Regions from separate parts of the Homo sapiens genome. Here region 1 is linked to region 2. Evidence: fine-mapped expression QTL. A gene starts in region 2. The other region holds a variant in brackets. All regions are shown on one strand. Distances are from middle to middle.

Evidence for each region.
Region 1: its variant is fine-mapped to the expression of FUCA1 in whole blood (TOPMed, PIP 0.95).

Annotation. Positions count from the first base shown.
Region 1 is chr1:23,892,963-23,909,141 of GRCh38, forward strand. The region is part of intron 1 of CNR2 (cannabinoid receptor 2); the gene reads right to left. It also overlaps the pseudogene BTBD6P1. Among named protein-coding and RNA genes, the nearest start is that of CNR2, 12 kb to the right of the region's middle. RefSeq lists enhancers at 4,136-4,195, 4,246-4,375, 12,086-12,165. The variant A/G (reference allele first, on the strand shown) is at 11,564.
Region 2 is chr1:23,859,758-23,875,936 of GRCh38, forward strand. FUCA1 (alpha-L-fucosidase 1) reads right to left here and starts at 8,533. Exons shown (of 8, transcript NM_000147.5): 1 at 8,141-8,533; 2 at 5,734-5,868; 3 at 3,377-3,514; 4 at 41-146. The coding sequence starts at 8,529. It overlaps CNR2 (cannabinoid receptor 2), which reads right to left. Exons shown (of 2, transcript NM_001841.3): 2 at 10,758-15,905. The coding sequence starts at 15,860. The coding sequence ends at 14,778. RefSeq lists an enhancer at 5,495-6,694 and a silencer at 7,945-8,164.

The DNA.
Region 1 (16,179 bases), 33 kb after region 2:
CAGAGATCGCACCATTGCACTTCAGCCTGGGCGACAGAGCGAGACTCTGTCTCAAAAAAATAAAAGGAAAGAATGTGTAATGTATAGGTTAAGAGCAAAGGATTGTTATTAAGGTCTTCTATCTATAGTCCCTTTCTCTAATGTCTACGGGTTATCAAAGAAACTCAGTCTTCCCTGTGGGGCCGAAGGATTCCATCCCCAGCCTGCTGTCCACTCACCATTCATCACCCCCACCCAGGCTGTCTGGATTCACTCAGTCTCCCCAGACCTTTCCTGGACCTTCCTTCTGCATCATCATCTCCAGCCTCTCTCCTGGGCAGAGCAGAGCTAAATGATGTCTGAGGCCTCTTTCCACTTTAGTCAAGGTTAAGTGCCAAGGCTTTAGAAGGAAACATCACTGAGTTCAAATCTCAGGTCGGCCACTGATAGGCTGTGTGACCTTGGGGAAAGTTACTCAAACTCTCTGAGCTTCAGTTTCTTCCTCTGTGAATGGGGAAACTAATCCCTATGTTCTGTATGTGCAGATTAAATAATTATTTAAAACTAATTAAGCAGGAGATTGGTTGCCTGATTGAACTATCAAGAGTGTTGGATGTGGTGGAAAGAAAACAGTCCTGAGTTCGGAATCTCAGGTGCTCAGGGTTTGAGCCCTGGCTCTGGCACCAGCTGGATCTATCCAGAAGCCACCTACTCTCTCTTGTCCCAGTATTGCCATTTGTAAAGAAGATTGGGGGATAACGATGAGTGCTTGGCACTGTGCTAGCACTTTCTACACATTATCTCATTTAAATCTCAAAACAACCCTTCAAGAATCTTATTATTTTCTGTATTTTATAGATGAAGAAATTGGGGCTCAGGAATGTTAAGAAACTTTCTGGGGGCTGGGTACCATGGCTCATACCTGTAGTCCCAGCACTTTGGGAGGCTGAGGTGGGCAGATCACTTGAGCCCAGGGCTTAGAGACCAGCCCGGGTAACATGAAACTCCATCTCTACAAAAAATACAAAAATTAGCTGGGCATGGTGTTGTGTGCCTGTAGTCCCAGCCACTCAGGAAGCTGAGGTGGTGGATTGCTGGAGCCCAGGAGAGTGAAGCTGCAGTGAGCCGTGATCACACCACTGCACTCTAGCCTGAGTGACAGAGCAGACCCTGTCTCAAATTAAAAAAAAAAAAAGGGACTGGGCACAGTGGCTCATGCCTGTAATCCCAATACTTTGGGAGGCCGAGGTGGGTGGATCGCCAGAGGTCAGGAGTTCAAGACCAGCCTGACCAACATGGTGAAACTTCATCTCTACAGTAAAAAATACAAAAGTAACTGGGCGTTGTGGCTCGCCTGTAATCCTAACTACTCGGGTGGCTGAGGCAGGAGAATCACTTGAACTTGGGAGGTGGAGGTTGCACTGAGCTGAGATCATGCCATTGCACTGCAGCCTGGGCAACAAAAGTGAAACTCTGTCTCAAAAAAAAAAAATTTTTTTAATAAAAGGAAGGAAGGAAGGAAGGAAGCAAGGAAGGAAGGAAGCTAGGAAGGAAGGAAGGAAGGGAGGGAAAGAAAGTTGGCCAGGCACAGTGGCTCACACCTGTAATCCCAGCACTTTGGGAGGCCAAGATGGTGGAGCACTTGAGGTCAGGAGTTCGAGACCAGCCTGGCCAACACCGTGAAACCCCATCTGTATTATAAATAATAATAATAAAAAAATCAGCCAGGCAGGAGAATCACTTGAACCTGGGAAGCAGAGGCTGCAGTGAGCCACGATCCTGCCACTGCACTCCACCCTGGGCAACAGAGTGAAATTTTGTCTCAAAAAAAAAAAGAAAGAAAGAAAGAAAAAGAAACTTGCTGGGGACATTGGGAATCCACTCTCTTGTCCATTTATTTGAAAACTAGGATCCCATCCAGTTGCTTTGCATTCTCCCCTCCCATCTCCAAACAAATACTTGGTAAATTAACTGACTAATTAGAAATCTGCAACACTGCCGGGCATGGTGGCTCACACCTCTAATCCTAGCACTTTGGGAGGCTGAGGTGGGCGGATCACCTGAGGTCAGGAGTTTGAGACCAGCCTGGCCAACATGGCAAAACCCCATCTCTACTAAAAATACAAAAAAATTAACCAGGCATGGTGGCGTGTGCCTATAATCCCAGCTACTTGGAGGCTGAGGCAGGAGAATCGCTTGAACCCAGGAGGTGGAGGTTGCAGTGATCCAAGGTCACGCCACTGTGCTCCAGCCTGGGTGACAGAGCAAAACTCAGAAAAAAAAAGAAAAGAAATCTGCCAACAGGACAGTTTTGTTGAGTCTTTCCAAATATCTTCTTCCTCTTTCAATTATTTTATAATTCAGCAACTTCTCTTTTAGAGAATGGACTAATAATGCTTACATTCATAACATACTTGACAATTTACACAGCCTGGGAAGGCTCACGGCTATTATGTGAGGCAGGTTTTGCTCAACTATTCCATGAGCAAATAGATTCAGAGGGGGCAAGTCCTTTGCCCAAAAACCCATAGCAAGTGGCGGACAAAGCCAGGACCTGAGTCCTTTTTTTTCTCTCTCTTTTTTTGAGACAGAGTCTCGCTCTATCACCAGGCTGGAGTGCAGTGGCGTGATCTCAGCTCACTGCAACCTCCAAATCCCGGGTTCAAGAGATTCTCCTCCCTCAGCCTCCCGAGTAGCTGGGAGTACAGGTGCGCGCCACCACACTCAACTAATTTTTTGTATTTTTAGTGGAGACGGGGTTTCATATTGGCCAGGATGGTCTTGATCTCTTGACCTCTTGATCCGCCCTCCTCGGCCTCCCAAAGTGCTGGGATTACAGCGTGAGCCACCGTGCCCGGCCAGGACTTAAGTCCTTGTGTCATGACAAGGTCAGATTGGTAAAGAGGCAGGATGGAATGCATGACTCTGCATAGGGTGAGGGGCCCTGATACCACGCACAATCTTTTGTCTTTATTTCCAGGGGCAAATCCCATCTATTTTCTCTCTCTTTTTGACTTTTATTTTTCTGACCATTTTTTCTCAGTAATGCCTTCATTGCTACCATTAGCTGGCCTTGAGTTATTGTTATTATTATTTACTTTTTGTAGAGATGGGGTCTCACTATATCACCCAGGCTTGTCTCAAACTCCTGGCCTTAAGTGATCCTCCCGCCTTGGTCTCCCAAAGTTCATGCTCAGATTACGGGCATGAGCCACCACACCCTGCCAGGCCCTAGACTTTAGTCCTTTCCCCACCTTACTGGTGGAGTCTGGACCTTCTCACCGACAAGGATTTACCCATCAGGCTGTTGGGCTTTGGAGTCAGATAGCACTGAGTTCCGATCTTGGCTCTGCCAAGTACTATTAGCTTTTTGTTCTCAAGTAAAGACACTCACTTCATTCATCTCTTTCATTCAGTTCCCTCATCCATAAAACAGGAGTAACAAGTAGTACTTGTCTCATCAGTGGTGGGGAGGCATGAAGACTAACTGAGTTAGCTCAGGCCTAATACAGTGCCTGCCACACACTAAGCCCTCCATGAATGGCAGCTTATATAGATGCTATATATGTGAACACATTAGAGCTTTCTCCTCACTTTCTCAAGTTCTTTGCTAGTTGGTAACCAATGAGAGTGACGATGTCATCTCTATTGTGCCCTTGGGCTGGTAGGAGGAGTGTCAAAGAGGGAGATGAGAGGCAGGAGGGAAGGGTGGGACAGGAAAGCAGAGGGGGAAGACCCTGTCTCCACTCAAGACTTTTAGAGATGAAAGAACAGGAAGCTGAGATTGTGCCAGGGAGCACCTGCTAGCTTGCCGTCATGACGAGAGCCCTGGATTAAGGAGATAGGAAGGATGCTGGTTCCAGTCCCAGGTGGAACTGATGGCTGTGTAACCTCAGGCACAATAGCCTCCTTCTCAGTAGGTCCATCTGCACCAGGAGTGTTTTTTTTTTTTTTTCTTCTAGAGTCTTGCTCTGTCACCTAGGCTGGAGGCTGGAATACAGTGGCGAGATCTCAGCTCACTGCAGCTGCCTCCTTCCAGCTTCAAGCAATTTTCCTGCCTCAGCCTCCCAAATAGCTGGGATGACAGGTGCCTGCCACCATTTTTCTATTTTTAGTAGAGATGGGGTTTCACTATTTTGGCCAGGCTGGTTTTGAACTCCTGACCTCAGGTGATCCACCCGCCTCAGCCTCCCAAAGTGCTGGAATTACAGGTGTGAGCCACTGCACCCTGCCAGGAGTGGTTTTTTGATGAGATCTCAAAAGGTCCTTCAAACATGGCAGTTATGCAATTAATCACATGGGGCAGAAAACAGGGGTGTTGTCAGATTGCAAAAGAGCTGGCGAGAGAAAGGCAGATCACGAAAGCCTGGGGCAGAAGTTCTCAAACTTCGTGGTCTCAGCGACCCTTTACCGTCTTAAAAGTTACCTTGGCAATAAATAGCTTTTGTTGATGTAGGTTACACCTATTAGTACTTGCTGTATTAGAGACTAAAACTGAGAACTTAAAAAAAATTAATAATCCTATTGCATGTTAATAGAATTTTTTTTTTTGAGACCGAGTCTCAGTCTGTCACCCAAGCTGGAGTGCAGTGGTGCGATCTCGGTTCAATGCAAACTCTGCCTCCCGGTTTCAAGCAATTCTTCCACCTCAGCCTCCTGAGTAGCTGGGACCACCACACCTGGCTAATTTTTGTGTTTTTAGTAGAGACAGGGTTTCACTATGTTGGCCAGGCTGGTCTTGAACTCCTGACCTTGTGATCCACCCGCCTTAGCCTCCCAAAGTGCTGGGATTACAGGCATGAGCCACCACGCCCGCCCTGAAGTAACATATTTTTAAATGAAAATAACTTTTTGTGGCAAATCTCTTTAATTGTCTGGTTTATGAGAAGGCAGCTGGATTCTTATCTCTGCTTCAGCATGCAAACTGTTGCAATATGTTGTTGTGGTTTAACTATGTGAAGAAAATAAATTTGCCACTCTCTCCTGAGTGCTTCCTTTGTGGCAGGCACTGTGAAAGGCCTTTTACAAGCACTGTGTCCTTTTCTGTTGTTGTTCAAATCCATACTATATATTTATTTTTATTTTTATTTTTTGTTTGTTTTTGAGATGGAGTCTCACTCTGTCACCCAGGCTGGAGTGCAGTGGTGCGATCTTGGCTCACTGCAAGCTCCGCCTCCTGGGTTCACGCCATTCTCCTGCCTCAGCCTCCCAAGTAGCTGGGACTACAGGCACCCGCCACCATGCCTAGCTATTTTTTTATTATTTTTTTGTATTTTTAGTAGACACAGGGTTTCACCATGTTAGCCAGGATGGTCTTGATCTCCTGACCTTGTGATCCGCCCGCCTCAGCCTCCCAAAGTGCTGGGATTACAGGCGTGAGCCACCGCGCCCGGCTTTTTTTTTTTTTTTTTTTTTTTTGAGATGGAGTCTTGTTCTGTTGCCCAGGCTGGAGTGCAGTGGTATGATCTCAGCTCACTGCAAGCTCCGCCTTCCAGGTTCACACCATTCTCCTGCCTCAGCCTCCCAAGCAGCTGGGACTACAGGCGCCCACCACCACGCCCGGCTAATTTTTTGCATTTTTAGTAGAGACGGGGTTTCACCGAGTTAACCAGGATGGTCTCGATCCCCTGACCTTGTGATCCGCCTGCCTCAGCCTCCCAAAGTGCTGGGATTCAGGCTTGAGCCACCACGCCTGGCCAATTTTTTTTTTTTTTTTTTTTTTTTTTTTTGAGACAAAGTCTCACTCTGCTGCCCAGGCTGGAGTGCAGTGGCACGATCTTGGCTCACTGCAAGCTCCGCCTCCCAGGTTCAAGTGATTTTCCTGCCTCAGCCTCCTGAGTAGCTGGGATTACAGATGTGCACCACCATGCCCAGCTAATTTTTGTATTTTTAGTAGAGACGGGGTTTCACCATGTTGGCCAGGCTGGTCTCCAACTCCTGACCTCAGGTGATCCAACCACCTCCACCTACCAAAGTGCTGGGATAACAGGCGTGAGCCACCACACCTGGCCCGTACTATATATTATTTTTAAATGTTTTCATTCTATTTTTGATGGACAAATAATAATTGTATATATTTATGGAATACAATGTGATATTATGATACACGTATCAAAATTGCTAAAAGAGTAGATTTTAAATGTTACCACAAAGAAATGCGCTGTCTCCTTTATCCTCCAAACTGCCCTTGGAGATAGACTGTCTCATTTTCACGATCTTATCTATGAGGAACCAGAGGCTCAGCTAGACTGGATTTGCCGAGGTCACAAAGTTTGTAAATGGCAGAGTCAGAATTCAGACTCATATATCTGGTGCCAGACCCTGACCACAGAAGTTGGGCAGCCTAGATGTGAAACCACCTTTGCAAAATTATGACTGAGACTGTGAAAGAGATCTAACTTAACTGACTCCATCTTGCTTCTAACCTCCAAGGTGTCCTTGTTCATTCCTGGGCTGAACTAACTTTGGGAGAAACTTAGTTTAAAACTAAGACAATAACAGCCCTTTCCCAAAGTACACCTCCTTCTTGGCTGGGGACTAGATTGCCTTTGTAGGACTAATATTAGGCACAAGATTAGAAATTATGGTTTAGGGTCTGGTGTGGTAGTTCACGCCTGTAATCCCAGCACTTTGGGAGGCTGAGGCGGGTGGATCACTTGCGGTCAGGAGGTAAGACCAGCCTGGCCAACATGCTGAAACTCCGCCTCCACTAAAAATACAAAAGTTAGCCAGGTGTGGTGGTGCATGCTGTAATACCAGCTACTCGAGAGGGGGAGGCAGAAGAATCACTTGAACCTGGAAGGTGGAGGGTGCAGTGAGCTGAGATTGCGTCACTGCACTCCAGCCTGGGCGACAGAGGGGTCTCTGTCAGAAAGAAAGAAAGAAAAGAAAAAAAAGAAAGAAAAGAAAGAAAGAGGGAAGGAAGGAAAGAGAGAGAGAGAAAGAAAGAAAGAGAAAGAAAGAAAGAGAAAGAAAGAAAGAGAAAGAAAGAGAAAGAAAGGAAAGAGAAAGAAAGGAAAGAAAGAAAGAAAGGAAAGAAAGAAAGAAAAGAAAGAAAGAAAGGAAGGAAGGTTTAGGAGTCATGCAGCTGGAGGCTACAAGATTCTGACCCTCCCTAAACTGCTCCTGCGATCAGTGCTTGAGATACTTTGCAGACCCTGCACTTGATGGATCAGCTGGCACCACCCAAATCCATAAACTGGCTCATGTGATCTTGTGGCCCCCACCCAGGAACTGACTCAGCGCAAGAGGACAGCTTCGACCCCCTGTGATTTCATCCCTGGCCAATCAGCACTCCTGGCTCACTGGCTCCCCGCAACCAAACAAACTGTCCTTAAAAACTCTGATCCTTGAATGCTGGTGGAGACTGATTTGAGTAATAATAAAATTCCGGTCTCCCGCACAGCCAGCTCTGCATAAATTACTCTTTCTCTATTGCAATTCTCCTGTCTTGATGAATCGGCTCTGTCTAGGCGGCAGGCAAGGTGAACCCCTAGAGGCTTATAGACGGAGGGGCATGGGGTCTCTCTTATACTTCTGGGCAACCATCTCTTCCCTGATCTCTTTTTTTTTTTTTTTTTTTTTGAGACAGTTTCACTCTTGTTGCCCAGGCTAGGGTGCAATGGTGCAATCTCGGCTCACTGAAACCTCCGCCTCCCAGGTTCAAGCAATTCTCTTGCCTCAGCCTCCCAAGTAGCTGGGATTACAGGCATGTGCCACCACGCCTGGCCAAGTTTGTATTTTTAGTAGAAATGGGGTTTCTCCATGTTGATCAGGCTGGTCTTGAACTCCCAACCTCAGGTGAACCGCCCGCCTTGGCCTCCCAAAGTGCTGAGATTACAGGCATGTGCCACCGTGCCTGGCCTCCCTAATCTCATTTTTATCCTTCCCACCTTGGACCATTTTACCGAGCCACGTTTCCAGCTACCAACCAAATTGTCCTTAAAATCTCTGATCCTCGAATGCTGGGGGAGACTGATTTGAGTAATAGGACACTAGAATGGTCGCTCCAAGGGAGTTAAGGCTTATTATTTGTTTTGTTCACTCCCGTATCTTAAGTGCACCTGCCTCACCCATGGTCACTGCTCAGTAACTCTTTCTTTTTTTAATTGTAGGCAACCTTTATTACAGAAGTCCCTTATTTTAAGTGACTTTTTGCCGATTTTAGATTTGAAGGGAAGGTCTACAGTTAAGCTTGGAACCACTTAGTATCCAAGAGGGTGGCAGGAACATGCAACCCCTCAAAGCAGGTGGCATGGGTGCCATTGGGAGGGGATCTGGGGCCTGTCTTGTGCCCTAAATCTTCCTCCACCTGAGACGTGCACCCCAGTGTACCAGAGATGCCTAAGACTCCAATCCCCCAGCTCTGGCTGTGTGGAAAAGGTGCCTACTTCACAGAATCAAGCTTCAGTTGACTACATGCCAAAGAGAGACAAGGTTAAGTGTGGCCTTTCATGGTGTCAAGAAGCAGTTAGTGTCCTGATTTCCCCTCCATCCACTCGCCGACCTGCTGCAGCCTCCCCGGGCACCTCAGGCATAGAAGATGAGCTCAGGGATCTGCCCACCCTGGACCCCAGTCCCGTTGGTGCTGTCCGAGGAGCACTGGAACTGGAAGGCCACCTTTCTGCACTGCACTTGCGTCATCCCCTCCTGCCCAAAGTAGCTGAGGTTGCTGCCGTCCAGAACAGCACTGGCCATGTAGAAGGTGTCTTGTTCAACCTGGACCGGGTGTTCAAACCAGACCGGGAAGGTGTTACTGGATCTGTCCGACATGAATTTGGTCAGATTCTGAGCCAGAACTACCCCAAGCCTCTTGAGCTCAATCTTCACGCTGTACTCAGCCTTCCCAGAGCTGGACCCACACAGGCCTAGCCCCGCAATAAATACCCTTCTGTCCACTGCAAACTGGATGCTGTCGCAGCGCCCGCAGTACTGGCATTGGTTGCTGCGGTAGGCAGAAGACTGGAATAGGTGGCACCTCTGCGGGGTGAGGCCCTTCCTCTTGATCAGGGGGAAGTCCAGGCGGGGCTTGTTGGTGGCCGTGTACCACAGGAAGATGGTGTGGGTCTCCTCCAGAGTCAGGATGTCTGGATGTCTGACTGGGCAGCGCCGTTGGCAAACTCCTCTAGGGTCATGGTTGGAATTCGGATCAGATAGAGGGCTCGCCCCAAAACATGCCTCTTGTTTCGTGGGGTGACTGGCAGCCCCTGCCTCTTGCACTCTGCCTTGGCCCAGTTCAGGACGGCCTTGAAGACCACCGCCTCCTGGTGTTGAGGGCCTCCCGAGTGACAATGATCTCCAACGTCTGCCGGTCCATCTCACAGAAGCCTTGGGACCGCAGGGCCATCTCGGCCTGTGCGTCGATGACCTCCCAGCAGCGCTGGGTCAGGTCGGGCTCCTCAAACAGCCGGCTCTGGGACAGCAGGACGCAGGCGTTCTTGGCTTTCAGACTTGTCCCCAGAAAGTTGACGCAGGCTTTTGCCAATGCTGGGACGATGTACTTCTTAGCAGCCTACAGAGTGGCCAGCACCGTATCCGCTTCCAGATCGATCTCATCACTGTACACGTACTTTAATAGGATCAGAAAGGCTGCGGGCTCCACGTCTGGAATGTGAATTTCAGATTTGACTTCCGCCAGGTCCCAGTAGAACATGGCATAGAAGACGGAGCTGCAGACAGCCAGGACGTACTTGTGGGCGGGCACCGTCCTGGTCGCCCCCGGGGGTCCCACGACAAAGTGCACGTCGGCCACGAGCTCGTTGTTGAACATGAGCGCGTTCCTCTCGCGCAGCGTGGGGGACCGCGCCATTTGGGGCTCTCCGGGTGGTTGTTGCCAAGTGTGGGCTGCGCGGGCGCGGGCGCGGGGGCGCGGTGCAGGCTGCGCTGCCCGGCCTTCCTGCCCACGGCGGCGCCGGCGTTGCTGTGGGCTAGGACCGCGGCCGCGGCGCTGGCGGGGACGTAGAGCTCCGCCGCCATCCTCGAGGGCGGGGCGTCGGGGGCAGCCTCGGAGCCTGTGGACCCCCGCCCCGCGCCCTCGCGCCGCGCCGGGGCCTCGGGAGCGGCTCTGCAAGCAAAAGCAGGGAGGTCGGGCGCTGAGCGACGCGGCGGTGATGGCAGGCCAGGGGCAGCACCATTCATGGGCGGCGGCGGCGGCGGCGCTGCGACCCGCGGGGCTGCCACCCGTGCCCCTACCACCCCCGCCCCTGCGATCCTGCCAGAGCCTAGCCTAGCGCAGCCGGGCCAGGCCTGGCCGCAGCAATAACTGCTTTTTAATGGATTGGTTGGAGGTATTCTCTCTGACACATGCCAGCATCCTCAAGGAGGGTAACCTGCTTTCTAATTTTCAAAGTGAGGCCGGGTGCAGTGATTCACACCTGTAATCCCAGCAATTTGGGAGGCTGAGGTGGGAGGAGCGGTTGGGCCCAGGAGTTCAAGACAAGCCTGGGCAACATAGGAAGACCCCGCCTCTACAAATAAAAAAAAATTAGCCAGGGGTAGTGGTTCATGCCTGTGGTCCCAGGCACTTGGGAGGCTGAGGTGGGAGGACCACTTGAGCCCAGGTGGTTGAAGCTACAGCTAGCCGTGATGTGCCACTGCACTCCAGCCTGGGTGACAGAGTGAGACCCCAGGCTTTGTCAAAAAAAAAAAAAAAAGCATTTCTTTTTAACGTGCGTCAGTAAGAAGGGCATGCCTAGGTTAACATATCAAAAGTGCTCCTCATAGTATCTGTGAAACAGCCTTGCAGAACCTAACCTGCCAGGCCATAAATGCAAGGGTGAAAATGGGATTGTGGGGAGCTTCACTTTAACAATAGCTAGTTGTGTAAAATGCAATTAATCCTCACAGTAAGTCAGGAAGGGTGGTCCTATTATCATCATCTCTGTTTTGCAGACAAGGAGACGGAGGCGCAAAGATGCAGTGACTTGTCTGAGGTTGCACAAAAGGGCAGAGCCCGATGTGAACCCAAACCTGTGCCCAGGTCTGCAACTGTCACAGGAGCCTGCCTCCTAGTTGCTCAGCTGGCTCCTGCGGCTTTCTCCCGGGGACTTCTCTCTAATCTTTCTGGGGGGCCCTTTGAAATGTTAAAAAATTGCATTTGGGCTCCCGATTTTCTGCTTTACCAGATTCCAGAGTTCACACTGCCTGAAGACAGGAATCTTAGCTTTGCCCCACTAGGGAGCTCCTTTGTGATCCAGGTGATGTCACTCAGAACTCTGGTTTTTTTGTTCGTTTCATTGTTTTTTTTTTTTTTTTTGGAGTCTCGCTCTGTCACCCAGGCTGGAGTGCAGTGGTGCGATCTCGGCTCACTACAACCTCTGCTTCCCGGGTTCAAGTGATTCTTCCGGCTCAGCCTCCCGAGTAGCTTGGGATTACAGGCGCCTGCCACCATGCCCAGCCAATTTTTTTGTATTTTTATTAGAGACAAGGCTTCACCATGTTGGCCAGGCTGGTCTCGAACTCCTGACCTCAGGTGATCGGCCTGGTGCTGCTTCCAAGTGCTGGGATTACAAGTGTGAGCCACTGCACCTAGCTAATCTTCATTTTTATAACAAGAACTAAAAGGCCTATCTCCCTCTTTCAAAGA[A/G]AGTCTACTACAGAAAATTATTTGATGCTCTGTGATATTACAGCATAAATGACTGATAAGCATGTGTGGATCTCTTTCACCCTGAGGGTAGCCTGTTACTGTGAAATCTGTCAGCCATCGGGAAGTATGCATTTGTCTGGGGGTGGGAGGAGCATTGTTAAAATCACACCTGGAAGTGGCCAGTCACCCATTCTGTCCATGAAGTGCTCTCTGTAGGAAAGGAAACTTTCATACAAAGTAAGGCATTATAACCAGGGAACAGAGAGGTCTGTCCCCTGATGATGAGGACTTTTCATGGTGGCTTCTCTCTAAAGCAGGAGTAAGACAGGGTTAACCACGTGGTGAACATTCTGAATCACCTGTGGTTTGCCTCCAGGCCACTCTACCTCTTCCTGGTTTGGCCAGATCCCAAAGGGTAGAGCCCCTACCCCAGCCATGATTCTGGTTTGCTTATAGGGTTGCATCAGTCGGGGGTTGAGGTTGCAATTCAGGCTGGTTCCCAGAACAGGGGAGTTTGTGAAGCGATGTGGAGAGCCATGGAGGCTCAGCTCTTGAAACACTCTGGTGATTATGACAATAGTAGCAACTAATACTGAAATTGCACCTACTGTATACCGTGTGTCAGGCACTATTCTCTGCACTTAACTTTTCTTTTCTTTTCTTTCTTTTTTTTTTTTTGAGATGAGTCTGGCCCTGTTGCCCAGGCTGGAGTGTAGTGCATCTCGGCTCACTGCAACCTCCGCCTCCCGGGTTCAATCGATTCTCTTGCCTCAGCTTCCCAAGTAGCTGGGATTACAGGTACCCGACACCACGCCAGCTAGCTTTTGTATTTTTAGTAGAGATGGGGTTTCACCATGTTGGCCAGGCTTGTCTCAAACTCCTGACCTCAGGTGATCCACCTGCCTTGGCCTCCCAAAGTTCTGGGATTACAGGCATGAGCCACCGCGCCCAGCCATCTTTGCACTTTATATATTATATATATTTATATATTAATTTATATATTCTACACAACAAATCCATGATGGGGGACTAGTATCACTCCTGTTCTGTAGTTGGGGAAACCAGCATCAGCAGAGAGGCTTGACTCATGGGGCTGATAAGATCTGTGAGTGGTGGCAAAGGGGCTGGAGGGGACAAAGGGACAAGCTGGGCAGAGGCTGATGGATGAATTAAACCTGGCATGAGGACTCAGGCCACGGAGAGACGAGGAACAGCCAGGGATAGGCCAGACATCTGGGGAGCTGATCCTCCTGTAAGTTCCTTCTACCTCTCTCTAATAGAATTAATTAAGGTGCATTTGTGCATCTGTTGGCTTTTGGTCCCTGGGACCATAACAAAGAACACATGTTGCAATCTCTGGCCTGGGATTTGGGATCTAGCGGGATCACGGGACACTCTATCAAGCCAATCTCAGGCCTCGGGAGCCAAACTTGCAAGGTGGCCTGGATTTCTAGTTCCTGTTCCTGTTCTGTGTAAAAGAGATTCTCAGTTGGTTCTGAACACAGATTCTCAGTTGGTCCTGAACTTACCCTCGGAACCAACTGAGAATAAGGAGGAAATAGGTAGACAGAGGCAGCCTGAGTCATAGTTGTGATTCTGATTCTGCTCCCACTCTGATGTTTTTTGGAGAACTAGGCTTAAGCTGTCTTCCCCCCTCAGACTCTCTAGCAGTGGGACTCCAGGCCCACACCACTGTACCCACCTCCTGCCCCTTATTAAAGCTGTGTTCTCTCGTGCAAATTACGTCGTCTCCTTGAGCCCCACTGTCCTTGTCTGTAAAATGGGAATAATGAAAATACCTCCACTCAGGACTGTTGTGAGGATTAAACAGTATGTATGGGACATAGAAAACTTAATTTTACAAACCCCAGTGGAAACTACTCGAGCCATTTCATAATTTTCTATGGCCCATGAAAAAGGAAGTGATTTTAAATAAAATGTACTATTTACAATAAGTGTATTGTTTAAAATTTTTCTCTAACTTTTTTTTTTTGTTTTCCTATCTTTCTTTTTTTTCTTTCTTTTTTTTTTTTTAGAGATGGAGTTTTGCCACGTTGCCCACGTTGGTCTTGAACTCCTGAGCTCAAGTGATCCACCTTGAGCTTCAGCACTTCCCAAAGTGCTGGGATTACAGGCGTGAGCCACCGCACCCGGCCAATTCATACTTCTTAAAAGTAATTTTATGTTTGCTATATGATAAGATAAAATAGGTTTCATTTAGCTGGGAGTGGTGGCATGTGCCTGTAGTCTCAGCTACTTGACAGACTCAGATGAGAGGATGACTTGAATCTAGGAGGTCAAGGCTGCAGTGAGCCATGATTGCACCACTGCACTCCAGCCTGGGTGACAAAGTGAGACTCTGTGTCAAAAAAAAAAAAAAGAAAAAATATGTCTCAGGCCCCTATTTGCATGCCTCTCTGTATATGCCTTGCAGGTGTAGATCTCTTTTATACCCAGTACAGGAAAAGACAGAATACATCTTTCTCTCTTCTTACCAACCTTTGAAATGTTGTGAAGTAGTAGGATTTCTCTAATATGCCATATAAGAAAGTTGATCAGATAAATGTAATTTATGAATCTTGAAGCAGGCCGGGCATGGTGGCACACTCCTGTAATCCCAGCACTTTAGGAGAGCAAGGTGGGCGGATCACCTGAGGTCAGGAATTCGGGACCAGCCTGGCCAACATGGTGAAACCCTATCTCTACTAAAAATACAAAAAAATTAGCCGGGCGTGTGGCATGCACCTGTAATCCCAGCTACATGGGAGGCTGAGGCAGGATAATCGCTTGAACCTGGGAGGTGGAGGTTGGGACGTGGAGGTTGCAGTGAGCCGAGATCGCGCCACTATGCTCCAGCCTGGTGACAGAGGGAGACCTTGTCTCAAAAAAAAAAAAAAAAAACAAGAGAAAAAAGAAGAATCTTGAAGCAAATCTGCAGAGGAGTTAACACCATCATTTCCTTGTATTTTCTTTTCTTTTTTTTGAGGTGGAGTCTTGCTTTGTTGCCCGGGCTGAAGTGCAGTGGCGTGATCTCGGCTCACTGCAACCTCTGCCGCCCGGGTTCAAGCAGTTCTCCAGCCTCAGACTCCCAAGTAGCTGGGATTACAGGCGTGTGCCACCACACCTGGCTAATTTTTGTATTTTTTAAGTAGAGATGAGGTTTCACCATGTTGGCCAGGCTGGTCTCAAACTCCTGGCCTCAAGTGATCCACCCACCTCAGCCTCCCAAAGTTCTGAGATTACAGGCGTGAGCTACCGTACCCAGCTTCCTTGTATTTTTGATATCAGTTTCTTATGCTGTCTTTAATCATTGGCTCAGTAAGGGTATAAATTAAATGATATCAGATTAAGAGCAAAAACGATGTAAAGCCATATATCAGCCAAAGCTGTAGCTGAATGATTAATTGCCTGGTTGTGAGTCATGAGCTAGTTTGTTCTATCACCACTAACTACTGCTTTTTTTTTTTTTTTTTTTTTTTGAGATGGAGTCTCCCTCTGTTACCAGGCTGCAGTGGCGTGATCTTGGCTCACTGCAACCTCCGGCTCTCTGGTTCAAGCAATTCTCCTGCCTCAGCCTCCTGAGTAGCTGGGATTACAGGCACATGCCACTATGCCCGGCTAATTTTTGTATTTTTAGTAGAGACGGGGTTTCACCATGTTGGCCAGCATGGTCTCGATATCCTGACCTCATGATCTGCCCACCTGGGCCTCCCAAAGTGCTGGGATTACAGGCATGAGCCACCGTGCCTGGCCAACTATCGCTTTTTAAATATTTATTTTATTTTTGAGATAGGGATCTTGCTCTGTCACCCAGGCTAGAGTGCAGTAGCACAATCTCGGCTCACTGCAGCCTTGAATTCCTGGGCTCAAGCGATGCCTGGCTATACCTGCCAGATTTGATTCTTCCACTTATCCTAGGAAGATCTCACATTGAGAAAAAATCTTTTAACTATTACAATAATTATTCACTAATTTTTAAAAAAATGGAAACAGGCATCAAGACCTTCTAATGATGTGAACCTTCTGGAACATCTCCCTCCCTAGTGGGAAAAGCTGGTAGAAAGTAGTGGGAAGACAGACTTGGGTTTGACTCCTGTCTCTGCCTGTTGTGTCTCAGCCTTAGTGGCTTCATCTGTCAAATGGGCCCATTGGAAGGGAGGGAGGGCTACAGAAGGTCAGTGAAGCACCCTCTGGCTCCTTCCTTGCTCTCAGTGGGCTCTATTCCCCAGCTTCCAGCTCCATCAGATTTTCCAGGACCCAAACAGACCCAGGGAGAGACACAGAGGACGAACTCAATGAATTTGGGCTGAGGCAACACTGTGAACGCAGCTGTGGCTCTCAAAGAGGAACTTAGGGGTTGCCTCAACCTCTAGGGAGGCAAGGGAGCCTCTGAGAGACAGGTGGGGTGGTGGGGGTGAGGGAGTGGGAAAAGCTGCCTTTGACTCACTGTATGAGCAGGAGATCAGAGACCTCCTCTCTGGGCAGTGGAAGCAGGTGGGGGAGGGGAGGAGAAGCCGTGAAGCTCACCGGACACCGAACCACGAAGTCCCCTCTGCTCATGGGCTCACCCACATCCTCCCCGACTGGATGGGGCCCCAGCAGCCTTCACTCCCTCG
Region 2 (16,179 bases):
TCTTCATAGGAGATAAATAAGAAGTCATATAATCACATACCTTGACAGGGCTGTCATTGTAGAGCCATGAAAGAAAATTTGTGGAGTTCCAGTAAGTATCAGGACATTCCCACTCCCCATCAGACCAGATCAGATCAGGTTTATAGCTGGAAGACATGTGATCAGGACAGAGCTTATTATCTGAACATGTTCACAGTAAAATCTTATGGACCATTTTTTTTTTTAGAGATGGGGTTTCGCTATGTTGCCTAAGCTTGAGTCCAGCAGCTATCAACATGTATGATCACAATGCACTATAGTCTCGAATTCCTGGGCTCAAGCGATCCTCTTGCCTAAGCCTCCTGAGTAGTTGGGACTACAGGTGCACATCACTGCATTTGACTTGTGGACTGATTTTTGCAACAAATATTTTAAAATTAATTTTCCTTCATTTTGAAAGTATGTGGCATAAAAATTATCACAGTGCAGAGGATGTGGAAAACTGAAAACATTTGCTAATAAAACCAGTTTGCTAATAAAACCACCATTTAAAACAAACACAGCAGGCTGGGCACAGTGGCTCACACCTGTAATCCTAGCACTTTGGGAGGCCGAGATGGGCGGATCACGAGGTCAGGAGATCGAGACCATCCTGGGTAACACGGTGAAACCCCGTCTCTACTAAAAATACAAAAAAATTAGCCAGGTGTGGTGGTGGGCGCCTGTATTCCCAGCTACTCGGGAGGCTGAGGCAGGAGAATGGCGTGAACCTGGGAGGCGGAGCTTGCAGTGAGCCGAGATTGCGCCACTGCACTCCAGCCTGGGCGACGGAGTGAAACTCCGTCTCAAAAAAAAAAAAAAAAAACACACAGCATTTTGGTATATTTCCTCCTGATCTTTTCCTTTCTTCCTTTTTTTTTTTGAGACTGTTTTGCTTTGTCTCCCAGGCTGGAGTGCAGTGCTGTGATCTCGGCTCACTGCAACCTTCACCTGCTGGATTCAAGTGATTCTTGCACTTCAGCCACCCAAGTAGCTGGGATTACAGGTGTGCACCACCATGCCTGACTAATTTTCATATTTTCAGTACAGACAGTGTTTTGCCATCTTGGCCAGGCTGGTCTTGAACTCTTGGCAGCAAGTGATCCACCTGCCTCGGCTTCGCAAAGTGCTGGGATTTCAGGCATGAGCCACTGTGCCTGCCCTAATCTTTTTTCTTTATGCCTTTTAGGAAATGGAGGTGTAATCAGCATACAAACAATTTGGTTTCCTTTCAGCAACTAATTCCAATTAAGAATGGGTGCAGCTGGCCGGGCACAGTGGCTCACACCTGTAATCCCAGCACTTTGGGAGGCCGAGGCGGGCGGATCACGAGGTCGGGAGATCGAGACCATCCTAGCTAACACCGTGAAACCCCATCTCTACTAAAAATACAAAAAATTAGCCGGGCATGGTGGCGGGCGCCTGTAGTCCCAGCTACTTGGGAGGCTGAGGCAGGAGAATGGCGTGAACCCGGGAGGCGGAGCTTGCAGTGAGCCGAGATTGCGCCACTGTACTCCAGCCTGGGCGACGGAGCGAGACTCCGTCTCAAAAAAAAAAAAAAAAAAAAAAAAGAATGGGTGCAGCACACCAGCATGGCACATGTATACATATGTAATTAACCTGCACATTGTACACATGTATCCTAAAACTTAAAGTATAATAAAAAAAAAAAGAATGGTGTTTCAAGGAAGCAAAGGAAACAAAATGGTGCTTCAGGACTATAAGACTAAGATTTGCTTTGAAGATGTTTTAAGAGTTGGAACTATTCATAAAATGCATTTTTGTGGATAATTACCAAAGTCTGTACTGTAAAGGACTTATGGAATCCACTGGAGCCCCATTTGTACTCTAGCATATTATTACTCTGAGCCCTATAAGGCATGTATGTTGTGTGTATATACATAAATACATATGTATATACCTATATGGTAAGCATTATTATTCTCATTTGAGCAGCAAGACTTTGATGCTCAGTAGGGCAATTTGTTTCAGGTGACAAGGCTTGTAAGTAACAGGAGGTGGAACTCAAATACAAATCTGCCCATTTGTCCACTGTACTCCATAATTAGGCAGGTAAACTCTAGGAAGATCACTAAGTGGCAAGATATAACAGATGGTCTGTGATTTACTGTGTATAAGAAATTGTACTAGGCAATTTAAACTCATTACCTCATTAGTTCTCATGATTCTAGGATATACTATTATCCCATTTCACAGATAGAGAAACCAAGATCTCGAAAGATAAGTAGTTTGTTCAAGGCAACATAGCCAAGTACGATAAAAGAGTGGGGATCTAAGATTCAGTAATTCTAAATCTGTCCATGTCTCTGATGGTCTCTTACAATTGTTACTATTTTCTTAAGAGAAGTCATCTGGATAGAATCTGAATACAAGGTAATTTTTCTTTTCTTGAGACAAAGTTTTCCTCTGTAGCCCAGGCTGAAGTACAGTAGCAGGATCTCGGCTCACTGCAACTGCCTCCCTGGTTCAAGAGATTCTCCTGCCTCAGCCTCCCGAGTAGCTGGGACTACAGGTATGCACCAGCATGCCTGGCCAATTTTTGTATTTTTTAGTAGAGACGAGATTTCACCGTGTTGGCCAGGCTGGTCTCGAACTCCTGACTTCAAGTGATCTGCCTGCCTCGGCCTCCCAAAATGCTGGGATTACAGGCGTAAGCCACTGCGCCTGGCTAAAGGTGATTTTCCTTTGCTCTAAAGTGAGGGTCCAGGCAGCTGCCTCTGAAGCTTTAAGGGTCTACCGTCCTCTATGAGTCCCCAGGCTCGAGAAAGGCAAATGGGGATAAAACATTGTGAAGAACTAGTGACAAATCCCTAAGTGAAAGTGATCATTTAAAGAATAATGGTAATAACAACAGCCTTACTTTGTACCAGGCACCGTGACAGATACATTTCACATACTATTCTGAGCCCTACAAAGAAGGCATTATTATCCCCACTTTACAGAGTGAGAATCAAGCTCAGGAGAGTGTTCTGTTTAAGGCATGTAAGTAACAGGAGCCAGAATTCAAACACAAATCTGCCCGATGCCAAACCACCCCCTCTCCAGGGTCCTGACATAGGGAAAACGGCATGTAAGAAGGGAACTAAAATTTTGACTTTCTGCCATCCTGGGTTTTGTGTGATTGTTTCAATGTAGAAGGCAATATGGCCACATGACAGAAGTTCTGAAAGGCAGGAGGAAAGAACATATTTTGTCTTAATACAACCACCACTTTTTATTATTTTGATGTCTTTTAGGTTTTTTTCATACCTATCCCTCCTCCACTTTAATGGTACCCTATAGGAAGCTCTGATTTCATTGATAAAAGTCATAGGGCCAAAATATTTCAGTGTCTTACCTGTTAACAAGGTCGTACAGCTCTGGCATTGTTTTTGCACTGACAAAATGCTGTGTTTTGAAGCCATTTTTCTTATCAAGTAGATAGAGTGGATGGAACCACTCTAAGAGTGAGTGGTATAGTCCATAGCGGATGTTCCTTAAACAGAAAAACAGAACAGCAACTGTCATTAAGCATAGAACAAATAATTTATTTTAAGGAAAATCAGTTCTAGCATTTTTTCATTTCAGTGGCACTCACTCATAAGAGCATATAGAGAGGAATGGGATCCAAAACCATTTCCTTAAATTATTCACTATTCACTTAAGCAAAATGAGGTTTACTGTGTTTTTGATTAAACACATAACTACCTTTTATACATAAATATCTTAACACCAAAATATTATTTAAACCATCTTTTATCTTTTAAGTCAATTATCCCAACAGAGTATAGTCCTGCTGGGCGCAGTGGCTCATGCCTGTAATCCCAGCACTTTGGGAGGCTGAGGTGGGAGGATCCCTTGAGTCCATGAGTTTGAGACCAGCCTGGGCAACATAGTGAGACCTTGTCTCCACAAAAACTGTAAAAATTAGCTGAGTGTGGTGGTGCGAGCCTGTAGTCCCAGCTACTTGGGAGGCTAAAGTGGGAGGATGGCTTGAGCCCAGGAGGTAGAGATTGCAGTGAGCTAAGATTGTGCCACTGGAGTCTAGCAAAGGCGACAGAGTGAGACCCTGTCTCAAAACAAAAACAAAACAAAACAAAACAAAAAACCATATAGCCTTATTTTTAAAAAATGTCTTCCCTGTCAATCATAAAATTTCATATTTAAAGAAACTGGAAAATAGAAAATCAAATATGCAAAGTACTCTTACTCAGAAATAATCATTAGTAACATTTTCCACACAGTTGAAATGAATATAGGTTTATCGTTTTATTTATCTAAGATTTACTAATAGTTCTTTCTCTTTTTTTCCTTTTTTTTTTTTTTTTTGAGATGGAGTCTCGCTCTGTCGCCCAGGCTGGAGTGCAGTGGCGCAATCTCGGCTCACTGCAAGCTCTACCTCCCGGGTTCACGCCATTCTCCTACCTCAGCCTCCCAAGTAGCTGAGACTACAGGTGCCCACCACCACACCCAGCTAATTTATTTTTTATTTTTACTAGAGACGGGGTTTCACTGTGTTAGCCAGGATGGTCTTGATCTCCTGACCTCATGATCCACCCGCCTCGGCCTCCCAAAGTGCTGGGATTACAGGCGTAAGTCACCACGCCTGGCCAAACTAATAGTTCTTAACGTACACAAAATGAAATGTGGTTGATGACCTATTTTCATATTTAATAAAGCTTGCTTTGGGTTAAGAATGGTGAGTGTTACAAAAACCTTATAATGCAAGAAGCAATTACACAGATAAAAAACAACTGAAGTATTTCATCATATGACCCAGGGACTAAATAAAGATGGTAAAAATCATGACTCCTGAAGTCCATATCTAATCAATATCTCAGAGTTTTACAGCAGGACTTTAAGCAAAGCACAGTGCTGAGAAACAAACTGAGCAGGTGACAGGAGTCAGCAAACTCTTTTTGTCTTTTTTCTTTTTTTTTTTTTTTTGAGACGGAGTCTCGCTCTGCCACCCACGCTGGAGTGCAGTGGTGCGATCTTGGCTCACTGCAACCTCCGCCTCCTGGGTTCAAGTGATTCTCCTACCTCAGCCTCCCGAGTTGCTGGGACTACAGGCAAACGCCACCACGCCCGGCTAATTTTGGTATTTTTAGTAGAGACAGGGTTTCACCATATTGGTCAGGTTGGTCTTGAACTCCTGACCTCATGATCTGCTTGCCTCTGCCTCCCAAAGTCCTGGGATTACAAGTGTGAGTCAACGCACCCGACCAGTGAACTCTTAAAGATCCAGACAGTGTTTTAGGTTTTGCAGGCCATTTGGTCTCTATCTCAGCTCTCAAATTGTAGCTTGAAAGCAGTCACAGACAGTGCATAAATGAATAGGCATGGCTGTGTTCCAATCAAACTTTATGATTTATACAGACACTCAGCCTACTCCTCAAACAGGACATCAAGTAGCATCGTAGTCTATGTTGGGTATCCTTCATCTAACCAGACATGGCCATGAACTTCTGTAACGGTGTCCCCTTTGGTCACGTGAAAACTGTGAAGCATCAAACACTGCCAATTCAAAGGCCAGAAGCCCTTCCGGCTACTTGCTATATGCAAACCTAGAAAACACACAGGAGTAGAAGGCCAAAAGCCCTTCAGGCTACTTGCTATATGCAAACCTAGAAAACACACGCAAGTAGAGGAGGTACAGAACTCTTGACAGCCAGATCCAAAGAGATAACAGAGTAACCATCCCTGGACACTCACCTCTTCCGGAGAGCTGTTCCCAATTCACCAACCAAATCCCGATGAGGCCCCACGTCTTTGGAGTTCCAGTTCCAAGACACAGGACTCGGCCAGTTTGTGAAGCCTTCGTGATGCTTTGTCGTCAAAACTACATACCTGTGGACAGCAAAACCACATGAGCAAAGGAAGTGGGCAGTGAACTTGCATGAACTTGCCCAGCATGCCTGAGGCTTTTTAAATAGCTGAAAGAACTTGACCACAACAAATGTACTTGTACCAGTGACTATATTAGTGATATCCAGGAAGCTGCTGCAGTCACAATTCCCCTTGGGCATTGCTCCAAGAATGGAAGCAGATTTGAGGAAGTCCCAACCCTCAGTCCCCAGCAAAGGAGGAGGCCCAGAGGGAAGGAAGGAGTGGGTAAGGGAAAAGAAGTGCACCTTAGCTCTCTGATTCTTCAACACTTCTGGTAGGAACGATTAACTTTCTTTCATTCTTTGCCCTGAAGGAGAAAGAGCTCTACTGGAAATGGCAGATAATAGAAAACTAAGCCATTTGCTGGCCAGGCATGGTGGCTCACACCTGTAATCCCAGCACTTTGGGAGGCCAAGGTGGGCGGATTACCTGAGGTCAGGGGTTCAAGACCAACCTGGCCAATGAGGCGAAAACCCATCTCAACTAAAAATACAAAAATTAGCCGGGCATGGTGGTGTGTGCCTGTAGTCCCAGGTATTTGAGAGGCTGGGGCATAAGAATCACTTGAGCCTGGGAGACAGAGGTTGCAGTGAGCCGAGATCATGCAACTGTACTCCAGCCTGGGCTACAGAGCAAAACTGTTTCAAAACAACAATAACAACAAAATAGAAAACTTTCTAGAAAACTAAGCTGTTTGGTTTACCAAGCCTACATAAATTGCCTCTCATTTATTATAGAGGTGACAAAAGACCCAATAACTGGGAGAAAAGGCAAGTGTTGAAATAACAACCAAATCACTCAATATTTAATTTGCTTTTATGGCACAAAAATAGGTAATGCACTTTATGGTTCAATCATTGGCCAGAGTAGGGAACTCCAGGATTTGAAGGGCCAGATAGTATTTTAGGCTCTGTGGGAGCACATTCCTCTCTGTAGTGTATTCTTCTTTAAAACATTTTACAACCCTTTAAAAATGTAAAAACCATTCTCACCTCATGGGCCTTAAAAAACTGGCAGAGGACCAATCCCTCTGGCCAGTTTGCAGACCCTGGTGCAGTGGAAACAACCTTGACGTCATGAGACCTGGAGTCTAGGACATTATATTCCTTCCTCTCTTTGGGCCAGTCATCTCATCCATGAAATAAAAGGCATGGAAAGAGGTTATCTCCCAGATTTTAATTTTTCTCACTTGTAAGTTATGGATCCCTAAGGCCCCTAGGAGACAAACACTTCCTCTGCTTAATCAAGTCTTATACTCCCATACATTTAATGGCAAACACTAAATGCCAGTTGTAACTTCTCTTTAGTACAAGTGAATTCAAAGTTCAAGAGAAACGAAAACCCGGAAGATGGCTGAGGAACCAAGGTAAGGATGGAAGACTGCTCTAAGCCAGGGGCTGGGGAAACCTCCCCGCCTCCATTTTTACTCTTCTCCAACCCACTTCTCTCCCAGCAGCCGAATGAATCTTTCTAGAAGCTGATAGTAACCACTCCCTGACTTAACATCTGTCAATACAGGGCTCTCAAGGCTCACTCCTTCAGGACAAGCCCCTGCCTTGACAACTTCATGGGTCGTGGTCTCCCCTTATCCCCACCCCAGCGCTCTCTACTCTGTTCTCTGAACCAGCCACCCCCAAGTTCCAACAGTTCTCAGAGAGAGTCAGACCCTTCCTGGACACTTCCTACGTAAAAGGGATTGAGAGGAGCAAACGAATGACTATCTGTACTGTTGCCCAAATACACTGCACACCAGAACTCCCCTCTCTTTCCCTCTTAGAGACATTAGGGCTCAAAGGGTTGTATCCTTATATAACCCCTTTCTACAACCATAGAAGAGGCTGCAGGGAGGCTGAAGTGACATGTCCAGGTTCACAGTTGAATTAGAACCAGGCTCCACACCACTGATTTGAAACCCTGGAGTCCTGATAGTGCTGTCAATCTGAAAGGGACATCAGGTATGGCCTAACTCAGCCCTCTCGGTGCACAGGTGCAGATACCCAGGGCTTCCCAGCCTGCCATCTCCCTGAACCTTCATTTATCAGTCCCCAGTCAAACGCACCTCCTCCTCCTCATCAGGTGTGCCAGGCTCACTCCTGTGGCCGCAGGAGGCCACACGCGGGCCCCGGGGTCATGGGGGCGACCGGCAGCTGCGCGCCCCAGCTGGCCGCCCAGCCCCACCTCCTGTTTGCCGCCCGAGCCGGGAAGGGGCGCCGCTCCCCGGGACCACACTCACTTGGCGCCCGCGGCCTGGAAGAGGTCGGCCCACTCCTCCGGGTGGAAGAAGCGCGCAGTGAACTGCGGTCCGAAGTCGGCGTAGCTGAAGCCGGGCGGGTAGTTGTCGCGCATGAAGCGCTGGTACTGCGGCCGCCCCTCGCCCTGCCAGTGCCACCAGAACCACTCGCTGCCCCAGGCGGGCACCGAGAACACGCCCCAGTGGATGAACACCCCGAACTTGGCTTCGTCGAACCAGGCCGGCAGCGGCCGAGAATCCAGGCTCGGCCAGTCTGGGGTGTAGCGGCGCGGAGGCTGGGCCCGACGCACCGACTCGGCCGCTCCGAGGAAGAGCAGCAGCAGCAACAGCGCGGGACCCGCCGGCCGCGACCTCATCCCCGGAGCCCGCATCGCTACCCCTCAGCGACGCGGCCCACTCTTAACGCGCAGGTGCCCGCGGGCGGCTCCGCCCACTCTGACTAACGATTGGCCCGGAAGGAAAAAGGGGTGGGACAACCTGGACAGGTTGGCCCGAGTCGCTTCCTCCTCGGGTCGGAGGAGCGCCCTCTGGTGCTCAAGAAGGGAAAGACGCAGGGAGGCGTTGACAGCGCTTCGCTGAAGGACGAATAAAAACCTTGAAAAGGGACTTAACTGCGAGGTTAAATCGTGGAGGTGAGCAAGGCCCAGTGTGTGCGGAGAACTCACATTTAAGAAGGAGTCCATTGAGCCGGACGCAGTGGCTCACGCCTGTAATCCTAACACTTTCGGAAGTCGAGGCGGGAGGATCGCTCTGAGCCCACAAGTTGGAGACTAGCCTGTCTCTATAAAAAATAAACAAAATGAGCCTGGCGTAGTGGTGCACGTCTGGAGTCCCAGCTACTCGAGAGGCTGAGGTGGGAGGTTCGGGATCGCTTGAGCCCGGGAAGTCTGGGCTGCAGTGAACCGAACCGTGATCACGCCTCTGGGAGTAGTCCATTTTGCCGCAGCAATCCTGCAGGGGTAGGCTGAAGTGAGATCACGAGTTTTATTTAGTGATCACTTGGGAGCCATAGGGGGCTTTTGAGTTGTCCTGTAGCACAAGGCTGGAGGAGGAGATAACAGACCGGAAGGGTATCTAACAGCCCTGACAGAAATAAGGAGGTAGAGGGATGATGGGAAGAAACGTTATGAAAGGAGAGGAAAGAGAAAACTGGGTACTGAAAGAGGGAGAGCGGGCAGGACCGTTTCATCTGTCTGGTATTTACTGAGCTTTCTTTGGGAATTCCGAGGCATTTCAAATAGCTTAGTTTGTACCGAGATACCGCCACTGCACTCCAGCCCCTGGGCGACAGAGCCAGACCAAGGAAGAAAGAAAGGAAGGAAGGAAGGAAGGAAGGAGGAAGGAAGGAAGGAAGGAGGAAGTGGAGAGCCAAGAGGACCCAGGATTGCCTGGCAGGGAAGTTCCCCAGTTCCTCTGCAATTTGCACATGCTGCACATACTCAAACGGGAGGTGAGGCCATTAGCGAGGGAAATACGGAAGTCAGAAGTCTCTGAACAGACAAGGTGGCTCACGCCTGTAATCCCAGCACTTTGGGAGGCCGAGGTGGGCAGATCACCTGAGGTCGGGAGTTTGAGACCAGCCTGGCCAACATGGTGAAACCCCATCTCTACTAAAAATACAAAAATTAGCCGGGCATGGGGTGCGCCTGTAATCCCAGCTACTCAGGAGGCTGAGGCAGGAGAATTGCTTGAACTCGGGAGGTGGAGGTTACAGTGAGCCGAGATCGCACCACTGCACTCCAGCCTGGGCGACAGAGTGAGACTCGGTCTCAAAAAAAAAAAAAAAAAAAAAGAAAAAGAAAAGGAAGAAGAAGTCTCATGACTCCACGTAGCACACTCAGTTCCCACATGCCAGTGAGAGAATGGCAGCACATCAGAGTTGGGACTTTGAAGATCCTAGGCACCATCCTCTTCCCTACCCTTCCCATTGTACCGAGGAGGGAACTGAAGCCCAGAGAGGGCTGGGGGGCTGCCCAAGATCATGCAGCTAGTTTGAGTCAGAGGTGGGACTAGAATACGTGTCTCCAGGTGCAAAATCTATGCCTTTGTTCATGCTGCTTCTTTCTTGCACCTCATGAGAAGTCAGAGCCTATGTTGACAGAACCCAGCACTTCCTCACTCTGGCAGTGACAAGGAGAGAAAATGACTATTGCTGAATCACAGCTGTTTTCTTTTCTTTTCTTTTCTTTTTTCTTTTCTTTTCTTTTGAGATGCAGTCTTGCTCTGTCGCCCAGGCTGGAATGCAGTGCTGCAATCTCAGCTCACTGCAACCTCCACCTCCTGGGTTCAAGCCATTCTCCTGCCTCAGCCTCCCGAGTAGCTGGGTTTACAGGTACGCCACCACGCCTGGCTAATTTTTGTATTTTTAATACAGATGGGGTTTCGCCGTGTTGGCCAGGCTGGTCTCGAACTCCTGACCTCAAGTGATCCGCCAGCCTCAGCCTTCCAAAGTGCTGGGATTACAGGCATGAGCCACTGCACCCGGCCTACAGCTATTTTCTTTATCTTCTGTTTCTTTTTCTGCCAGATTATGTTGAAATATTGCCCAAAACAGTAAGCATGAACACCTTAGGAAAAAAACCGAACCCATCCACACACATTTTCTAGTAATCGGTTTGCATAGTGGTCTTTAATGTTACAGAGCTTGTCTTGGGGAAGATAAAATGGGACATTGTGATCTTCAATTTATTTCTCCTTATCCACATAACCAAAATGTGAACCTGCAGGGACAGGTGAGAGGCACTGATGTAGAGTGGACAGAACTGGAAGTTAGGAAACCTAGGTTTGTTGCACTGGACACCATCTCGTTTGTCTCCCTGAGCAAGTCTTGTCCACTGTCTGGGCCCATTTCCTCAACCAAACAACAAGGGCAGTTCTCAGTGATATCTAGGTCCCTTTTGCACCCTTGTTCTCCTCCCTCATAAGCTCTGCTTCTCCACTTAAAGCAGACATAGGGGCTGGGAGTGGTGGCTCACACCTGTAATCCTAGCACTTTGGGAGGCTAAGGTGGGTGGATCACTTGAAGTCAGGAGTTCAAGACCAGCCTGGCCAATATGGTGAAATTCCATCTCTACTAACAATACAAAAATTAGCTGGGCATGGTGGCGGGTACCTGTAATCCCAGCTACATGGGAGGCTAAGGCAGGAGAACTGCTTGAACCCAGGAGGCAGAGGTTGCAGTGAGCCAAGATTGCATGCCACTGCACTCCAACCTGGGTGACAGAGTGAGATTCTATGTCAAAAAAAAAAAAAAAAAAAAAAAAAGCAGAAATACAGTGTGGTTCTAAAAGAAGAGAAGTAGAAAGTGTGGAGTTGCGTTTGATCAAATGATTTTTAGAATCTAGTTTTATTCATTCAAGAAGTATTTACTCAGTGCTTGTTTGTGCCAGGCACTTGGGCATTTTCTTTGCCAAAATGAGAAAGGATTCCACCGATGAATAAAGAAAGGCATGCTTCAACTTTAAGGAATGACAGTATATAAACATGCAAATTCACTTTTAAACATTTATGCTACTTGTTTGCCTTACAAAAAGATTGGTGTCTGGATTAAAACAAGATTTGATTTTCCAAAACATACGTCAGAGCTTTTCAGAAACAGTTCAGTTCCACACATATTGACCAGATCCCTTCAGATGCTCTGCTGGGTCCTGACTGAGCACTGGGGATGCAGAGGTCAACCTGGAGCTCATCTTGTTGAGGGAGGATAAACTAGTGACTGCCACTCAACACAGCCCAGTGGGTGGACTTTGTTCCTGGGTCTGTACTGAGTTGAATAGTGTCCGCCTAAACTTCTTGTCCACCTGGAATCTGTGAATGTGACCTTATTTGGAAACAGGGTCTCTACAGATATAATTGGTTAAATTAAGATGAAGTCATACTATTAGGATTAGGGTGGGCCCAAATCCAGTGACTGATATTCTTTAAAAAAGACACCAGGCCGGGTATGGTGGCTCACGTCTGTAATCCCAGCAATTTAGGAGGCCAAGGTGGGCGGATCACTTGAGGTCAGGAGTTCAAGACCAGCCTGGGCAAGATGGTGAAACCCCATCTCTACTAAAAATACAAAAATTAGCTGAGTGTGGTGGCGGGTGCCTGTAGTCCCAGCTATTTGGGAGGCTGAGGCAGGAGAATCACTTGAACCTGAGAGGTGGAGGTTGCAGTGAGCCAAGATCATGTCACTGCACTCCTGCCTGGACAACAGAATGAGATTCCGTCTCAAAAAAAAAAAAAAAAAAAAAAAAGACACCAAGAGACACAGAGGAAATGCCATATGAAGACAGAGTCAGAGGTAGGAGTGATGTTTCCACAAGCCAAGGAATGACAGGGACTGCCAGAAGTTGAAAGAGTCAAGGAATAATTCTCCCCTTAAACTTTTGGAGGGAGCAGGGCCCTACCACATCTTGATTTTGACTTCTGGCCTCCAGAATTATGAGACAGTAAATTTCTGTTGATAAGCCACTGGATTTGTGAAATTTATTACAGGAGATTAATACGGGGCCATTTAATAAAATGGAGTATATTGAGAATCTACGATGAGTTAACTTTGCAGCAATCTGATGCTACAGATAGCTAATATTATCCCTAATGAGCAATAATCAAGCAGAATTTGACTGAACTAGGACAAAAGGTTAGTGGTTAAGAGGGCAGGCTTTGAAGTCAAACAGAACTAGGTTGGAGACCTCAGCTCTGGTACTTAGCAGGGTGACCTTAGACAAGTGACTTTGCATCTTTGAGGTTGCCACATCTGTAAAATGAAGATAACTAAGACCTTCTTATTAGGTTGTTGGGAAACATGAAGTGAAATAAGGCATTTAAAAACACTTAGCCCCCTGCCTGGCACATAGTAAAGGCTCAATAAAAGTGAGCCGGCACATGGTAGGTCTATCCTACCGTTTATTGAGTTAACTCAATTAATCCCTATTACATGACATGAACCTGCATATTTCCTTTGTTGTACTGCCTGTAATTATCTTCTTTATTGACTTATTGGCTGTCTTGCAAGCAGGATATAGACTGTAAGCCCCATGAGACAGGGGCACAGTCTCATTTATGGCTGGGTACTCAGGACCCTGCACAGAGCCTGGCTCATGTTTATGAGATGAATGAATAAGTGAATAGCTAGTGGATATTTTGTCTTGAAAGTATTAAACGAAGACATGTTTAACCAATATCTTTCATTTTATTCCATTTGAGGTCCCAAATAATTGCATTAGAATTCCTCTGCAATCTTCCTGCCGCCAACAATTTCTCTTGTTGGCTGTTTTAGGCTCCTCTGGGAGGAACCCAGCCTCCCTCATATGAAAAATGAGTACCCTGGGATCTATTTTATTTTATTTTTTTGAGACAGTCTTGCTCTGTCACCCAGGCTGGAGTGCAGTGGTGCAATCTCGGCTCACTGCAACCTCTGCCTCCAGGGTTCAAGCAATTCTCCTGTCTCAGCCTCCCGAGTAGCTGGGACTACAGGTGCCTGCCACCATGCCCTGCTAATTTTTGTATTTTTAGTAGAGACAGGGTTTCACCATATTGGTCAGGCTGGTCTCAAACTCCTGACCTCAGGTGATCCACCTGCCTTGGCCTCCCAAAGTGCTGGGATTACAGGCATGAGCTACCATGCCTGGCCCCTGAGATCTTTAAAATCATGGAGCTATATTCTAGCTGGGGTCAATAGACTGAAATGTCAGCCCCATACCTGGCATATAGGAAGGACATTTCCCCTCCTCCCACTTGCTCTGCTTATTATATGTAATAGGGGTGTGGAGGAGGCAAGGGAGCTGAATTGGGGGCAGATAGGGGAACAGTTTGGAGATTTATACAATCTTTGTGAATATCTTCCTTTTTTTCTTCGAGTTAGGTTAGACTAGGACATTGCCTGCTTCCAGCAGCACCACCAGGACTGCTGCTGGAAGGACTTCAGAGGGTCAAGAAAATTCTCCAAAGATTTTTGTGTCTCAGGCGATCCCAGCCTCCTCTGTATTTCCAGGGACCTGAGGTTACAGGTGGGGATTATCAGAATATCAGAGAGGGTCCTCGCCCAAACAACAGGATGCCCCAAACTGAAGGCTTGTCATTTATCTCTGAAAGAGGCAAGTCAACACCTTAATCCTCATCATAGCATAGTCCTCGGTCCTCAGTGGCAAGGGTGACTTGAAAGTGGGGCCTTTCATAGCTCCAGAGCCAAGGAGGCCTTGACAATTAGGCAGAGAGAAGACCTGGATGTCCATCCCATCTGATACCCTGACTTCCCAAGAGAACAACCCATTCTTCTCAGATTTCTCCCAAGTCCCTCATTGCTGGGCCTGGAGGCTCGCTTTGGCTCCTGTGGTCTCTGGAGGATGCAGGCATGAAGCCTGACCTGACTTGTACTGACCCTGTCCCAGGCCTTTTGTGTCTCGCCTACCTGGCTACTCCTCGTGGCCCTACCTATCCAACAGACTGTGTGCAGGTGGGCAAGGCCAGGCTGTCTTCCAGGAGTCAGTCCCAACACTCATCAGCAAAAAGGGGTCCGTGTCTAGGTGTCTGGGACTGGTTTAAGTAAGAAGAGAGTGCCAAGACCCCTCTCTCTCTTCCAGGGAGTGAACTGATTTCTGACTTGAGTTGTTTAAATTGGGAAGAGGCCTCATCAGCAATCAGAGAGGTCTAGATCTCTGGAATCTGGCCACGGAGTGATTTTCCCATCAGCCTCTGTCTCGGTGACTGAGGATCTCGGGGCTTCTTCTTTTGCCTCTGACCCAAGGCCCCTCACACACTTCTTCCAGTGAGCCAGGCAGTGATGGGCAGAGGAGCGGATCTCTCCACTCCGTAGAGCATAGATGACAGGGTTGACCATGGAGTTGATGAGGCACAGCATGGAGCAGAAAGCAAAGGCCTTCTTGACCTGGTCACTGAGCGTAGTGGCCAGGCTGTGGGCCATGAGGGCCAGCACTGGGAACCAACAGATGAGGAGCACAGCCAACACTAGCCCTAGGGTCTTGGCCAACCTCACATCCAGCCTCATTCGGGCCATTCCTGGCACCTGCCTGTCCTGGTGGCCAGACAAGCTGGCCACATGCTGATGGGCCTTCCAGAGAACATGCCCATAGGTGTAGATGATTCCGGAAAAGAGGAAGGCGATGAACAGGAGCCAGCTCAGCAGGTAGTCATTGGGGATCAGTGGGAAAAGCTCAGAGCAGGGCCTGGGACAGCAAGTCCATCCCATGAGGGGCAGGTAGGAGACTAGTGCTGAGAGGACCCACATGATGCCCAGGGTCACCAGTGCCCTTCCACGGGTGAGCAGAGCTTTGTAGGAAGGTGGATAGCGCAGGCAGAGGTATCGGTCAATGGCGGTCAGCAGGAGGCTACCCACAGAGGCTGTGAAGGTCATAGTCACGCTGCCAATCTTCAGCAGGAAGACAGCCTTGGAATCCACACCATGGAAAACATGGAAATTCACAAAGCTGCATGCAAAGACCACACTGGCCAGGAAGTCAGCCCCAGCCAAGCTGCCAATGAACAGGTATGAGGGCTTCCGGCGGAGTTGGTGGGAGGACAGGATCAGATAGAGCACAGCCACGTTCTCCAGGGCACTTAGCAGGCCCAGAAGAGTGCACAACACAGCAACAGCTGTCTTCTGGGGACCACTCAGGATCATGTAATCCTTCATAGGGTTGGAATCCAAGCCATCCTTGGAGCCATTGGCTATCTCTGTCACCCAGCATTCCTCCATGGGGTGGGCCCTTCAGATTCCACTGAGCTTGTCTAGAAGGCTTTGCTGCAGTACAATGAGAAGAAGAAAATAATCTTTTTCAGTAAGCACAAGAATGACCTCACCTGATAACTGACTGTAGCCAAAACTGCTACCTGTATGGATGGATTCTATGTGGGAAAATCAGTTTCTGTTTTGTTTGCCTGTATTTTGCCCTTTCTCCATCCAAGCAGGAAGCCAGATCTGTCCTGGCTGCCTCAGGGGAGGTACGTGGGAATGCAACAAGCAGAAGTGACTTGTGAGATTTTTGGCCTTCCATTTTCCAAAAGACTAATCCTAA